Linked DNA regions of Homo sapiens. The protein of the gene in region 3 interacts with the protein of the main gene of each other region in a pairwise test. Each region holds a gene or a part of one and is shown on either strand. Other genes may lie near its edges.

Region 1 (3,000 bases), on a different chromosome or scaffold from region 3:
TGCTTTGGGTGCAGCCGTGGAATCCTGATGTAAAAGCATAGGTTCTTGCATTACTGAGTAAACATTGAATTGGGAGCATCAGTGTGTGAATTCAGCTTTGATTTTAGAACTGCAGTTCAATTATGCTTTCCTTGGAAAAAGTATGTCCAAAAACATTAGGAAAGTAGTGTGTATTTTCATATATAACAGTGTCACCAGACCCAGGAAAAGAAACCATCTCTATTTTATTGAAAGTTGGTGGTAGATTTTTTACAAAGTAAGGAGAAAAGAGAAAAACTAAATAGTGAATTGAAAATGAATAAAGTAAACTTAGAATTTTTACCCAAGTGTAGACTTAAATGTTGCTTTGAGTATGGCTGGATCTTGGGAGAATTCCAGGAAATATTAGGTATTAGAAAATGACTTTGATTGCATTTCAGCAGGTGTCTTTATTCTGAGTAGTATCTTAGGAGACAAACTGTCTCAAGCAAGAAACAATAAATTTTTAAATATTATGACAGTTCAGGGCTTAAGGCAGTTTAGAAGTATTTTGCTACTTGACCTTGATTTTCAGTTATTTTAACTTTGAATTTTTTTTTTTTTTTTTGAGACGGAGTCTTGCTCTGTTGCCCAGGCTGGAGTACAATGGCACCATCTCAGCTCACTGCAAGCTCCACCTCCAGGGTTCATGCCATTCTCCTGCCTCAGCCTCCCGAGTAGCTGGGATTATAGGCGCCAGCCACCACGACTGGCTAATTTTTTGTATTTTTAGTAGAGACGGGGTTTCACCATGTTAGCCAGGGTGGTCTCGATCTCCTGACCTGGTGATACACCCACCTCGGCCTCCCAAAGTGCTGGGATTAAAGGCGTGAGCCACCGTGCCTGGCCTTGAATTTTTTTTTAACCTGTTATATAGTCTCCTGAATAGTTAGCCATGGTGCCTTGATTTAATCTTATGTCATTGTTCTCAAATGCCATGATTTCTCTTTAATAGTAGTTGTCATTATGTAAGGGTAAGTTATTGCCCATTTAATTGTAATTATAAGAAGAGGTGCCAGCTAGTGACCTTACATCAGTGATCTTTTAAGTTCTGAAGGGTTCTGCAGAAAAGTTACACTTCTTGAGTTTGGGTTGCCCATCAGAGCTGGTCACATTTCTTTGATCATTGAAAAAATGAATATCTTAATTTTTGTCTTTGCTGACTGGTATTTATAAAATACAAATGCTTTTAGTGGGTTGAGCTGTTGTGATAATCTCTTCCATCTACCTTAGAGAAGAAGCTGTACTATTTAGACAGTTTTGGCCAACACTAGAAGCAAAAGAATTCAAAGGCTGGGTGGATATTTAAGAACTTATTCTAACCTGTCAGGTTTCAATTTGTGGGGCTTGGTTTAACAGAGGAAAAAAATATAAATTGATTTTCTGATGTCTCACAAATATCACATACCTGGAAAAAAATTAAAACAAAAAATGAATTTTGTAAAAGGTTATGTATGACTTCCATTTGCTCTGTAAAAAAATGAACAAAGATTGTGAAAGGATCCTCTTCCACCACATCATTTAATGGGTTAGCGGAACAGATAGGGAGCTATGACACTAGCACCAAAGAGAGATTTTTCTTCTGGTTGGGTGGTGCTGGTGCCACGCCCCTTTCTGGGATTTGACAAGTCTTTCCCACTCACCTATACAATATGCCAAATCAACTGGAGTTGTCATTCTAATGTTTTAAAGAATGATTGGGTTCCCCCAAACTGTAGGAGGTCGATGGTAACAATAAAGTGATACAAAATGCTTATGTCATTATAATTTATGTAAGGGAGACCATTAGGCTGAGAATCAATATGATTGAGGTTATCTATTCTCCTGAAAAGTGAATTGGAGAATAAAGAAAGAATATTTGAAAGGATGTTGTGTACTAGGCAATATACTAGCATGTATTAGAAAATACGGTAAACTGTGGGTTAGAAGAGTGAAAGTAGCTGGTATGATAGAGCACTGGACTGAGTAACGAAGAGATTCTAGTCATGGCTCTTGTGGTCATTTCATTTTTGAGCCTCACATTCTTCCAATTAATGAGGGTACCAGATTAAATAAACTCTGGGGATTCATCCCAATTCGAACTCTGTAATTCTCTGAATGAACTCTCTCTTCAATTAAAGCCAAATTATTAACATTTTAACTCAAGTTTAAATTTAATAGAGAAGTCAAAATGAGGTATGCACTTTGTGGAATGTTTTTGGTCTTATCACAATAACCTGATTAAAATGGTGCCTTTATTTCCATGTTTACTCCTTTAAATAAGATGAAAGCTTTCAGAACATTTATTTGCAAAATGACTGTCAATATCAACAATATGCATCAAAGTACCATATATGCTAAGGGAGAGGAGCACTTGATGGGCTGCTATGTTAACTGTAAATTGAGAACTGCTTGTTTTATGGCTTTTGCTGTTAAAAAAAAACTGCTGGCTTTTAATATGTACTTTAAAATATACTCATGTCTGGGAGAGAACTTTTAAAAACATTTTGTGTTTAATTTTTAAAAAATTATTTCTTTAATAGGAATCTACAAGAAGGTAGATCAGTCCACAGGCTAGCTATCCAGTAGAACCAGTGATTAAATCCAAGTGTACAGGTTTATGTGTGCATGTACATGATACACATGGTATTTTGGGGTTGTTGATCTAGTGATCTAATTATTAATAGTCAAAACATTATTTAAATTCAATTCTTTGACATTTATTAATTATAGGATAGTTCCTGACACGGGTGTGAGCACAAAATGTTATGTATATTGGCTAACTATGTTACCAGTACCAGTGATGGTAGTGAGAATTAGCAGCCAACAGGATTCCTTTACTATGTTTGAGTCAGTGGAACTTAACCTTGCTCCAAACCACAAAATCTCAGACCTTTTTAACTCTCATCCCAATGAATAATGTACTGTTTTTAGCACCTGTCCCCCTGTTGACAACCTCTAATCTCTCAGCATACCATTTTCTCAGGTATTTCTAGGGAAGTG
Region 2 (3,500 bases), on a different chromosome or scaffold from region 3:
CTCCTCTGTGAACAGGGGTACTCACTCGTGAAGCAGCTGACAAGCTTTAGAGATGCTGGCCAGGATTATACACGCAATCTGTAGCTGCAGAACAACTCATCTTTCTGATAAAAAATGACCCAAAATGGGGGTCGATAGTACAACACAAGCTTCTGCGATGGCAGCCTCTGTGTAAGAAGTATCTTGCGGTCAGGTGTGGTGGCTCACGCCTATAATCCCAGCACTTTGGGAGGCCAAGGCAGGCAGATCATGAGGTCAGAAGATCAAGGCCATCCTGGCTAACACGGTGAAACCCCATCTCTACTAAAAATATAAAAAATTAGCCAGGTATGGTGGTGGGTGCCTGTAGTCCCAGCTACTTGGGAAGCTGAAGTAGGAAAATCGCTTGAACCCAGAAGGTGGAGGTTGCAATGAGCCGAGATCGCACCACTGCACTCCAGCATGGGCAAGAGAATGAGATTCTATCTCAAAAAAAAAAAAAAAAAAAAAAAAAGTATCTTCTTCAGGAAACATATCTTTTCCTGAACCGGGCACTTGTTTAAGCAAAGCCTTTTCCTGTACAATGACCTATACCTATTATACTTGCTTTCCAGACATCTCTGGAATCTGCATCAAGGCAAATACCAAGGGCAATTTACAGAAATTATTTGTAGCAAAGAATAGTGAAATAATCCCCACACACATTGATACTGGGAATTACACCCTGAGGTCCACAGACTGAGTAGTCCGTGGGTCAATTACTCAACTGTATGCAAAACTGTCTGCTTATTGCATGGTTCTGGCCAGAATCCACAGCTTACAGATCCACAGTGCTCTATGAACTAAAAGAGCCACCATTCTAATATAAGGGGCAATCAAAAGAAGCAGGTCTGCCGATATTCAGCCCACTGAACTTGACTGTCCACCCTATTCTCTATTGCTCCTAAAGACAAATTTAAGCAAACAGAGCTTGCCAAGTTTAAATTTGTGGTACTCACCACACCAATGTGCTCCACAGAGGGGGAAAGGCCATGTGTCATCTCCTACAGTCTTCCCACTCATCTCTTCCTACCCACCTTGTTTGGTCTTATCCAAAATCCGTGCCAGAAACACTACCCACCAATCCAAAAGAAAGAATTTTCTCAGAAACAGGAGACTGGGTGAGTTGGACAAAGAGAAAGTATTTCTACTCCCAGGTAACAGAGTAAAAAAAGAGGAATTCTTCAGTGGCCCTTCTAAGAGGTAAAGTTATGAGCCACATGAGACAAATAAATCAGCCTCCTGCCTCCATTAGTTTATCTTATCTTCTTCCAGATGTGTCCTAGCAAATTGATTCAAGAACTCAGACCCATTTTTTCTCTCTTGATCCTCCTTCCACTTAGCATAGGTCATTTTCTGTGTGAGTATTAGTTTGCTTCACAATTACCTTTTTAAGACATAGGCTCCAAAAACTGCCATTATTATTTGGGAGAAATTACTCCCAAATAGTTAGTTAAGAGAAAGGGGGAGAGGGAACCCATATATATGTTGATAGATATATATGAAATATGTAATGCTTAGCTTATGTCTGTGTTTCTTTACATTTGTCATTAGTAGAAACCATTATCCCTACCTTTATAAAATCCTAGATAACTTAAGATGGTAGCCAAAAACTTCATAGAATCTAAAGCTGAAAGAAACTAATCATCCACTACTTAACTAAATTTGCACAACATTCCTCAACACTCCCAAGGGCTGACCGAATTTGTAGTCTCTGATAACATACTCTCTTCAGAATCCTCAGTAATACCGCATATTAAGTAATCTCTTCATTTACGGTCTCTCAACTGCCAACACTTCCCAAAGCATGAGTTACGTTCCATATTAAGTATCCATACTGCCATAACTGGCTCCTGTGAATTTCAGCTTGCAACTTTAAAGCCCAGCTGCGGACATTCGTTTATGTCTGGAAAGCATGATAAATATATCTTTGAAAATGATACTCATTGAAGTTGACATTTGCTCCAGAAGAGTTCACTCACAGCTTTGATGTTTCAGATAAACTTGCGAAAGATAGAGTTGTAAGCACACTTTCCAAGCAGGCACAGCAGGTGCTCACAAAAATCCTATCAACCACATGTAATATGAGTAATGAAAATGCTTGGTCTTTCCTCTCTAGGAATTTATTTTAGCCTTGAGAAGAGGGCAAGGCAAAAGAGTGACCTCTCATCCAATCCATAAGAGTAGTTTCAGATTCAAAGTTGGAATCAGGTGTAAAAATATAGGTTACTTTTACAGAAGAGGGAAGAAAAGCTATCAGTTGCTAAGGATAAAGGGAAAAAACAAGACCCTACAATACCATGAAAAATAACACCTGGTAGGTGAGAAGAAATTTTAAACTTAAAATTTGAAGTAGGTCCTTTCATTGCTATTAAGGACCTCAACAATATAGAGAAACACAATCTATTAATAAATTCAGCCAGGTGTGGAGGCTCACACCTGTAATCCCAGCACTTTGGGAGGCTGAGGTGGGTAGATCACTTGAGGTCAGGAGTTTGAGACCAGCCTGGCCAACATGGTGAAACCCCCCTCTACTAAACATACAAAAAAGTTAGCAGGGCATGGTGGCACAGGCCTATAATCCTGGCTACTCAGGAGGCTGAAGCAGGAGAATCACTTGAACCTGGGAGGCAGAGGTTGCAGCAAGCTGAGATCATGCCACTGCCCTCCAGCCTGGGTGACAGAGCAAGACTCGTCTCAAATAAATAAATAAATATTCAGCATAGTTACCAAAAGCCTTATGTTGTTCACTAAATGTTATTCTTTATACATTAAGATAAATGATGACTGAGCCTGGTGGAGCGGCACATGCCCGTAGTCCCAGAGGCTGGGGCAGGAGGATAGCTTGAGCCCAGGAGTTGAGACCAGCTTGGGCAACACAGGGAGACTCCAACTCAAAAAAACCTCATAATTGCCAACATATTTATATTAAGGGAATGAACCCAAGTCATTATATGAAAAAAATAAAGGAAGATGAAATTATAGATGCTCCTTGGTTTACAACGGATTTTGCTGAAGGTAATGCCAGAAGCTGAGTTTACTGAACGCTTGTCACTTCCACACCACTGTCAAAAAATCCTAAGTCGAACCATCCTAACAGGAGACCGTCTGTACTATCTTTAACAGTGTAACAGAACACAGAATTAGCTTTCCAGCAGTGACTGCCTCTGTTGAATTAGTAAGCTTGGTAAACTTTCATTTCTTACAACCAATGACATAAATGCTAGACAACTGGTCAAAGTTGGAACGTTTTCTTCAGCCAAGCTGAACTAACCTAACTGCAGTTCAAAACTGAAGTTTGGTGCCTCATCGGCACCATGTTCTAACAAACTAAGCTAAAAACAATGGCTTATGGACATACTGAGAATGCGGTTTCTTATCCTTCCCCATGTCTCAGAAGGGAACAAAGTGACTATTTAAAGCCAAGAAAAATATAAAGAAATAAAAACCATCTACAACAGACCTAGACAAAAAAACACCCT
Region 3 (5,663 bases):
GCAGGCCAGCAGTCACCTCTGAGGTGTGGGCCCAGGGCAGCCTGTGTGTGTCCCCTCCTGTGTGCACGTGCTTGTGTGTGCTTGTGTACCTGCTGGTACCTGTGGCCTCCTGCTAGTTGCTCTTTGACTTTTCCTCCTCAAGGAGGCACTGAGGGTCTTCAGGACAAAGCCCTGCACCCCACTCTAAAATCCAGTAGCGCCAAGAAATTTAACACCGGCCTGGAAACAAAACTTTTAGTTCTAAATTCTTTGGTGCAAAGGGCAGAAGGGAGCTCTGCTGCTGCTGGACTTGGCTTCCCTGCACGGCTGCTGGGGATCGACCTGCTGGCTTGCTGGGCCTGCCCCACGTCCTCCCTCGCTCCCCTTCAGCTCAGCCTGCATCTTCTATGCTGGCCCCAGTACCCTGACCGCCCCCACCCTCGCTTGCCCTCCCCCACAGGTGGACACAATCCTGTTTGCAGAGTTCCAGGCCTGGAGGGAATCCCCCACCCTGGACAAGACCTGCCCCTTCCTGGAAAGGGTGTACCGAGAGGACGTGGGCCCCTGCCTGGACTTCACAATGCAGGAGGTGAGGCATGGCAGGGGCGGGGCCAGCTGGGGGACACACCCCTCCGCCAGGGCCCAGCCCCTTACCACCCTGCCTGCCTCCCTGGTCTGCCACAGCTCTCGGTGCTGGTACGGGCCGCCGTGGAGGACAACACGCTCACCATTGAGCCGGTGGCTTCGCAGACGCTGCCCACAGTGAAGGTGGCCGAGGTTGACTGTAGCAGCACCAAGTAAGCTGAGGGTCTTAGCTCCTTCCTGCCCATGTGGGAAAGCCCCGCCAAGCCGTGTGTTTACTGTGCCGAGGGGTGGTCAGGATGCAGCAGCGCCGACAGGACAGGGACAGTTGCTGCCCCCACAGGGCAAGGAGGCAGTTTGGCAGGTTTCCTGTGGACCCCCAGGCTTTCCAGAGAGGCCGGGAGCTAGGGTCTGCCTCTTCCTGACTGGTCTGCTCTGTGCCCTCCCCTTCTTTTCTTGAACCATGATTATCAGTTGCTGGCTGTGCCCCTGCCAATAAATAACGACGCAGTAGCCCTGGCATTTGTCCTCCAGCTACTCACCTGGCATTGAGCAGGGGAGCAGCAGAACAAAATAGCCAGGGTGGAGCAAGGGGCAGAAATTGGGGAGGATTTCACCTTGGCAGCCAAGAGCCTGGCTGGGGATGGCTGGTGCCCTGGTGGGAGGCTCATCACGGAGAGGGAGCATTTGAGCCAGGTTTTGAAGGATGAATAGAAGTTTGCCAAGCAGGGAAGGGCATTTCAGGCAGAGGGAACGGAATGTGCAAAGGTGTGAGAAGCTGGAGTATTAACGGAAGCACCACTGGGGCATCTGGCTAAGCAGTGGGGGGACAGGGAATTGGGGTGGAGGCTGCAGAGGCTGTTGGGGCCAGAGTATAAAGAGCCTTCACAGGTTTGGGCTTTAACCCACCAGCCAGTGCGGCAAAAGTCATCAATAGGCCGGGTGCAGTGGCTCACACCTGTAATCCCAGCACTCTGGGAGGTTGAGGCGGGTGGATCACTTGAGGTCAGGAGTTTGAGACCAACCTGGCCAACATGGAGAAAACCCCATCTCTACTAAAGATATAAAAGTTAGCCGGGTGTGGTGGCACACGCCTGTAATCTCAGCTGCTCGGGAGGCTGAGTCAGGAGAATTGCTTGAGCCTGGGAGACGGAGGTTGTGGTGAGCTGAGATTGCACCACTGCACTCCAGTCTGGGTGACAGAGTGAGACCCTGTCTCAAAAAAAAAAAAAAGTCATCAATAGCTGCCACCTGAAAAGAGGCTCTCTGGTCCATCAGAGAGTCCCAGTGAACCAGGAGGCAACAAATGCTCTGATAAGTCCGCAGCCAAGGAGCTTTTTAAACCTTCATTTATTTGGGATTCTCCCCATTTCTTGGGAATTAGGAAAGCAAGAGAGAAAGATGATGGGTTAGATGTGGGTTTTTGGAGGAGCCCTGGCTCTGATGTGGAGAAGAAAGAGAGCGATGAGGCAGAGAGCTGGCCAGAAGGAGCCAAGGGGATGCAGGCCAAAAGTACTGCTGCTGTGCCCTGGCCTGGGGACTTGGTGACCAAGCAGAGGGTGAGGAGGAGAGAGCCGAGCAGATGATGGCCAGTGAAGAGCAGGTTTGGGGAGTGGGGCCCAGATGGGGGTTGCTCAGGGCCTGTGGAGACCCTTCATGTGGGTGGCTGAAGATGCTGAGCGACGTCATGCAGGACTGGGGGGAGGAGAGAAGAGGGCATGGGAGAAGGCTCTTAGACGGGGTTGGTTGGCATGCGGCTGAGAACCATGGGGGTTAGTGGGGTCAGAAGGCCTGCATGGATGAAGCAGGGGAGCTGCTGGATGTTGGGAAGCGGGAGGCAGCCAGACCTCAACTCTGGCCTAGTTGGGGGAGGAGTGCCTGGTCTGAGTCCCCAGAAGTAGAGGGAGAGGCATATGCAGAGCCTGCAGAGGGTGGGACTTTGTACACCTGGCATGAGATTAACCAAGCTCTCTTGCCCAGTAGGGGCAAAACAAGGGTTCTAGGGGTACAGCTCAGCTTAGTTCGAGGTCTGTCCCAGGGATGGCTGGGGCCAGCTCCCTTCTCTGCCTGGCTCTGGGTTCCTTTGGAAGCCGGGTGGGGGAAGGGAGGCCTGCCCCTCCCCATGCATCCTCTCAGCTGCTGCATCTTCCCTGTATGCAGGGGTGAGGGAGAGGGGCAAGCCCCAGCCAGCCCCCGTGACCCATTTTGCTTTCCCCTAGCACATGTGCCCTGAGCGGGCTGACCCGCACCTGCCGCCACCGAATCCGGCTCGGGGACTCCAAAAGCCATTACTACATCTCGCCATCTTCCCGGGCCAGGGTGAGTCAGCCTTTGCAAGCGTTACTTGACTCCTTTGGGGCCACCTGGGTGCTGGGACACTGGGCCCTGGGCCTGGGAGTATGAATAGCACTACACCTTGATTTACTTATTTTATTTATTTATTTTTTGAGACAGAGTCTTTGTCACCCAGGCTGGAGTGCAGTGGCACAATCTCAGTTCACTGCAATGTCTGCCTCCCAGGCAGACATTAGCAATTCTCCTGCCTCAGCTTCCCAAGTAGCTGGGATTACAGGCATGTGCCACCACGCCCAGCTAATTTTGTATTTTTAGTAGAGATGGGGTTTCACCACGTTGGCCAGGCTGAACTCGAACTCCTGGCCTTAAGTGATCTGCCTGCCTCGGCCTCCCAAAGTGCTGGGATTATAGGTGTGAGCCACCACGCCCAGCCTTACATCTTGATTTACAGAGCAGGGTACAGGCTCAGAGAGGCGCAGAGACTGACTCGGGCCACACAGCCAAGCCAAGGGCAGTGGTTTGCTATTACGGTGTAACAAATTACTATCAACCTGGTAGCTTAAAATAGCGCAGTTCCCCATGTTGGAGTCTAAGCACTACTTACTTACTGGATTCTCTGCTCAGGGACTTGCAAGGTCGCAGTAAGCTGTCAGCAGACTGTGTTCCTTTCTGGAAGTCAGGGTCCTCCTCAAAACTCACATTGTTGGCAGCATTCAGTTCCTTGTGTTTGAAGGACTGAGGCCCCTATTTTCTTGCTGGCTGCTGGCAAGGGGACACCCTCAGCTTCTAGAGGACACCCGCAGTCCCCTGCCACAGGGCCTTGTTGCACAGGGCAGCTGACTTCAGAGCCATCAGGAGGGCCACTCTCCAGTCGGCTGAGATGCAGCCTTATGTATGAAATGTCATGGGATGACATCGCCCCCCTCTGTCATTCAATGTCACCTAATCCAGGAGTGATGCTAGAGTTCCAGTTAGAGTGCGGGGCTCCTGACGCCCAGACTCAGGTGCTGGCCGAAGCTTTGGAAAAGGTTCAGCGGTGCGTCTGGTGCACCAGCCTTAAGTCGGCCGTGAGTGCCAAGGGGCCTCTAGGAATCCCAGCTCCCACCCTCCCCTGCCGAGTGACCCAGACCAGGACAGGGGTTCTCACCAAGCTGGGGATTGAGGACAGGGATTCCTCTTCCTCTGTCCCTCTGTTGACTCTTAAGAGGATTGAGGGGAACAAGAGAACATGTTTGGAAACACGTTTCCAGTGACACAGCTTGAGGAACCATCTCAGGCCTGCTAGAGGCTCCTCGCAGGGGAGCAGGTCTAAAGGGGACAAATGGTCCCTTTGCTGGCAGCAGACTATACTGTCCTTGATGAACTCCACAAGGCATCCGAGCGTGAGTCCTCCCAGCGGTGTGCTGAGCACCCATTTACCAAAAGGGAGGCTGAGCCTTGGCAGAGGAAAGGGGTGTGTTCAGGGCCACACACCGAGACCTGGGATCCTGGCTCTGAGTCCACTGCAGCCCCTACCCTGTGGATTTGTGCCCACTGAGCCTTGTTCAGTGGCCACTTATCTCCATCACCGCTTTCCAGGCCCAACCATGGCTCAACAGCAGGCCCCACAAAAGATGTTCCCGTGCTCAACAATGTCACCTCTAGCACTTTAAGTCCCTGGCCTGGGTGTCCTGCTGCACTGGATGAAGCTGGGGGTGGGAGATGAGGTGAGGAGGGTCTGAAGTTTTAGGATGTGGTCCCTGCCCTGAAAGACCAAGACATGTGGGGTCCACAGGGAGAAGTGTTTTCTCCCTAGCACACTCCCTGGAGAGGGAAAGCCCCCTCCCTGCTACTCCCTGCTCATGAGCCTCTGTGGGCATCCACTGTCCCTGCTCCTGTCCTGAGCTCTGCCCTGCCCCACCCTCCTGCCGCAGCCTCTCCTCAACCCTCCCTGTGCAGCGGTGTCCCTGCCACGACGGGCTGGTCCCCCGACCTCGCCCCGCTCTCTCGCACCTCCCTATCTTTGCCAGGCCACCACCGTCCCGCCCCTCCCCGAAGCTTCTCCACTCCCCAGCCTGCGGGTGCCCCTCTCACTTGATGTCCCTCCCCAGGAGTGTTGGACATTCAGTAGGGGCTGTTGCGGGCGGGCACAGCCGCCGGCTACCTTCCACCCTGTCTTAGGCTGGGTTCCGAAGAGGCAGAGCCTCACCTGGAGATTGTGTGCAGCTCCCAGGAGAATGAGGGAAGGGACGGGGGAGTCCAGCCAGGATGTGGCCTTAGCTACAGCCCAGCTTCAGCCCCATCCACCGGGCTCTTAGCAGAGTTGATTCCACCCTGAGGCAAGGGGACTGTCCTTTCTATCTCCACACAAGTCAGTCATCGGCTGAGGTCTACAGGAGGAGTGAGTACAGAGGGGGGCACCTCTGAGCCATTAGTGCCCCCACTCTCAGCAGCTGGGAGATGGGGCCCGGGCCTGGGAAGGGGCCCTGGGCCAGGCACCAACAGTACCCTCTCCGTGGTGTGAGTCCTCATAGCAGTGTCTGAGCCAACACAGGGTCCCCGGGGCCTGGCATGGAGCAGGCCTGAGGCCCCAGGGGCCCCGGGCAGCCCAGGTGAGCGGCTTCTGACCCCCTTTCCTTTCCCAGTGTTATCAGTAGCACTGGACTGAGGCCTGGCTGGCCCAAAACTCCAGCATCTGGAGCAAGCCGGCCTGTGAGAGGGCGAGTGTAGACTCCGGGACAGCCTGCCCGGTTCATCTCACAGCTCTGCTGCATGCTGGTTCATTAGCTCCGCCATCTCCGTGATGGATGTCAGCGGCTTTCCCCGGG
Region 4 (3,500 bases), on a different chromosome or scaffold from region 3:
AACCTACCTTTGGCTATCTCTTTCTTCCCCCTACCCTTTTCTGCTTCCAGTAAGCACTATTCTGCTCTCTCCTTCTATGAGATTGACTTTTTTAGCTTCTTCATATTCATGAGGACATGCAGTATTTATCTTTCTGTGTCTAGCTTATTTCACTTAAAATAATGTCCTCCAAGCTCATTCATGTTGCCGTGAATGACAGAAATTTGTTCTTTTTTACAACTAAATAATACTTCATTGGGATATATAGCACTTTTTTTAATCCATTCGCCTATTGATGGAAACTTAGGTAATTTCATATCTTGGCTATGTGTTGTGAGTAGTGCTGCAATAAACATGGGAATACAGATATCTCTTTAACATACTGATTTCCTTTCCTTTGGATATATACCCAGTAGTGGGATTGTTGGATCATACGGTAGTTCTATTTTTAATTTTTTGAGGAACCTTCAAACTGTTTTCCATAATGGGCATATATATGCATATATTCCAAATAACATATAAGAGTTTGTGTTTCACCAAATCCTTGTCAGCATTTTTTTTTTGTCTCCTTGGTAATAGCCATTCTAACTGGGGTGAGATTATATCTTCTTGCGGTTTTGATTTGCATTACCCTGATGATTAATGACATTGACCATTTTTTGTACCTACCTGTTGGCCATTTGTATGTCTTCTTTAGAGAGATGTCTATTCAGCTTATTTGTCTGCTTTCTAATGTGATTTTTTATTTGCTATTGAGCTCATTTTATATTATGAATATTAAACTCTTGTCAGATGAATAGTTTGCAAATACTTTCTCCTGTCCTGCAGGTTGTCTTTTTTCTCTGTTGACTGTTTCCTTTGCTGCGCAGAAGCTTTTTAGTTTGACATAATTTCATTTGTCTATTTTTGCTTTGGTTGTCTGTGCTATTGAGGTCTTATCCATGAAATTTTTGCTCACACCAATACCCTGAAGTATTTCCCCTATGTTTGCTTCTAGTTGCTTCATAGATTCAGGTCTTATATTTAAGTTTTTAATCCATTTTGAGTTGATTTTTACATGTTATGTGAGGTAGAAATACAGTTTCATTTTTCTGCATATGAATATTCAGTTTTCCCAGCATCATTTTTCAAAGAGACTGTTCCTTCCCCATTAAATGTTCTTGGCAGCTTTGTTGAAAATCATTTGGCTGTAAATATGTGAATTTATTTCTGGGTTCTCTATTATGCTCCATTGTTCTATGTCTCTATTCATATGCCAATATCATGCTATCCGGGTTACTATAGTTTTGAAATATATTTTGAAGTTCAAAATGTGATTTCTCCGGCTTTGTTCATTTTGCTCAGGATTGCTTTGGCTATTCAGGGTCTTTTGTGGTTTCATATAAATTGTAGGAGTTTTTTTCTGTTTCTGTGAAGAACATCACTGGTATTTTGATAACATTGCATTGAATTGGTAGATCACTTTTAGTAGTATTGTATTAATTTTTACAATATTAATGTCTACAATTCATGAACATGAGATATCTTTCCATTTTTTGTGTCTTCTTCAATTTTTTTTATCAGTGTTTTGCAGTTTTTATTGTAGAGATCTTTCACCTCCTTGGTTAAATATATTCCTACATGGCTTTTTTTGTAGCTATTATAAATGCAATTTGTTTCTTGATTTTTTTTCCACTAGTTTGTTTTTGGTGTATAGAAAAGCTACTGGTTTTTGTATTCTTTTTTTTTTTTTTTTTGTATCCTCCAACTTTACTGAATCTGTTTATCAGTTCTGAGATTTTTGGTGGAGCTTTTATGATTTTCTATATAGAAGCTCTTGTTATTTGCAAATGAGGACAATTTGACCTCCTTTTCAATTTAGATGCTCCTTATCTCTTTCTCTAGCCTAAGTGCTCTGCCTAGGGCTTCCAGTACTCTTTTGAATAAAAGTGAGATGATTGTCTTCCAAATCTTAGAAGAAAAGCTTTAAACTTTTCTCCATTCAGTGTGATATTGGCTGTGGGTTTGTCATACATGGCTTTAATTATGTGGAAGTACATTCCTTCTATACCTAACTTGTTGAGAATTTTTATCATGAGGGGATGTTGAATTTTTCTCAAATACATTTTCTCTATCTCTTGAGATGATCAAATTGTTTTTGCCCTTCATTTTGTTGATGTAATGTATCACATTTATTCATTTGTATATTACATCCCTGAGGTAAATCTTACCTACATGGTGAATAATCTCTTTAATGTGCTGCCAGATTGGTTCACAAGTATTTTGTTGAGGATTTTTGCATCTATGCTCATCATGTTCATTGGCTTATAGTTTTCTTTTTTTGTTGTTGCATCCTTGACTAGTTTTGGTATCAAGGTAACACTGGCCTCATAGAATGAGTTTTAAAGAATTCCCTTATCTTCAATTTCTGGAAGAATTTGAGGAGAATTTGTATTAGTTCTTCTATAAATCTTTGGTAGAATTCCAGAGTGAAGCTGTCATATTCTGAGCTTCTTTTTGATAAGAGACTTTTTATTACAGACTTAATGCCATTACTTGTAATTGGTCTGTTCAGGTGTTCTCTTTCTTGTTGGTTCACTTCTGATAGATTGTTTGTGTCCAGGAATTTACCTATTTCTGTCAGGTCTTCTAAAGTTTTTGGTATATAGCTGTTTATAATAGTCTCTGATAATTTTTTGTATTTCTATGGTATTAGTTGTAATGTCTCCTTTTCATTCCTGATTTTATTGGGACCTTTACGTTTTTCTTGGGTAGTCAAGCCAATGGAATGTTGATTTTGTTTATCTTTTCAAAAAAATTCAGCTTTCCATTTTGTTGATATTTTGTATTTTTTAGTCTTAATTTTATTTATGTATGCTTTTCTTTCTTTCCTTCTAATTTTGGGCTTGGTTTACTCTGCTTTTCTAGTTTCTTGAAGTGCATCATGAGCTTGTTTATTTGATATCTTTCTACTTTTTTGATATAGGTGTTTGTTGCTGCACACTTACCTTCTAATACTGCTTTTGCTATACCCCAGATGTTTTGGTATTTTGTGTTTCTATTTTCATTTGTTTGAAGATATTTTAAAATCTTCCTCTTAATTTCTTCATTGACTAATTTGTTATTCAGGAACATGTTGTATAATTTCTATGTATTTGTACAATTTTTAAAGTTCCTCGTTATTTTGATTTCTAGTTTTATTATATTGTGGTCAAAAATTGATATGATTTCTATTAAATTTGTTAAGATTTGTTTTGTGGTCTAACGTGGTCTATGCTAAAGAATGTTTCATTTTCTAATGAAAAGAATATGTATTTTGCAGCTGTTGAATGAAATGTTCTGTAAATGTCTGGTAGGTTCATTTGGTCTAAAGTGCAGTTTAAATTAAATGTTTCTTTGTTAATTTTCTGCCTGAATGATCTGTCCAATGCTGAGGGGTGTTGAAGTCCCCAGCTATAATTGTACTGAAATCTATTTCTCCTTTGGGTTTAATTATTTGCTTTATAAATCTGGATGTTGTGGTATTGGATGTGTGTATGTTT

The links. The genes of interacting proteins can lie anywhere in the genome.
Region 1: the proteins of RAB3IL1 (region 3) and RAB11A interact in a two-hybrid assay, tested with the Homo sapiens proteins (2 studies listed by BioGRID and IntAct).
Region 2: the proteins of RAB3IL1 (region 3) and CHCHD3 interact in a two-hybrid assay, tested with the Homo sapiens proteins (one large-scale study listed by IntAct).
Region 4: the proteins of RAB3IL1 (region 3) and FHL5 interact in binary tests that used the Homo sapiens proteins (3 or more experiments, as listed by UniProt).

What each region holds. Positions count from the first base shown.
Region 1 is NC_000015.10:65,889,490-65,892,489, forward strand, and holds the end of RAB11A (ras-related protein Rab-11A), read left to right. Parts: 3' UTR 1-2,500; downstream 2,501-3,000. UniProt on the Homo sapiens protein: The small GTPases Rab are key regulators of intracellular membrane trafficking, from the formation of transport vesicles to their fusion with membranes.
Region 2 is NC_000007.14:133,075,591-133,079,090, forward strand, and holds part of CHCHD3 (MICOS complex subunit MIC19), read right to left. Parts: intron 1-3,500. UniProt on the Homo sapiens protein: Component of the MICOS complex, a large protein complex of the mitochondrial inner membrane that plays crucial roles in the maintenance of crista junctions, inner membrane architecture, and formation of contact sites to the outer membrane.
Region 3 is NC_000011.10:61,899,659-61,905,321, reverse strand, and holds part of RAB3IL1 (guanine nucleotide exchange factor for Rab-3A), read left to right. Parts: intron 1-439; coding exon 440-568; intron 569-663; coding exon 664-776; intron 777-2,780; coding exon 2,781-2,880; intron 2,881-5,663. UniProt on the Homo sapiens protein: Guanine nucleotide exchange factor (GEF) which may activate RAB3A, a GTPase that regulates synaptic vesicle exocytosis. Promotes the exchange of GDP to GTP, converting inactive GDP-bound Rab proteins into their active GTP-bound form.
Region 4 is NC_000006.12:96,566,128-96,569,627, forward strand, and holds part of FHL5 (four and a half LIM domains protein 5), read left to right. Parts: intron 1-3,500. UniProt on the Homo sapiens protein: May be involved in the regulation of spermatogenesis. Stimulates CREM transcriptional activity in a phosphorylation-independent manner.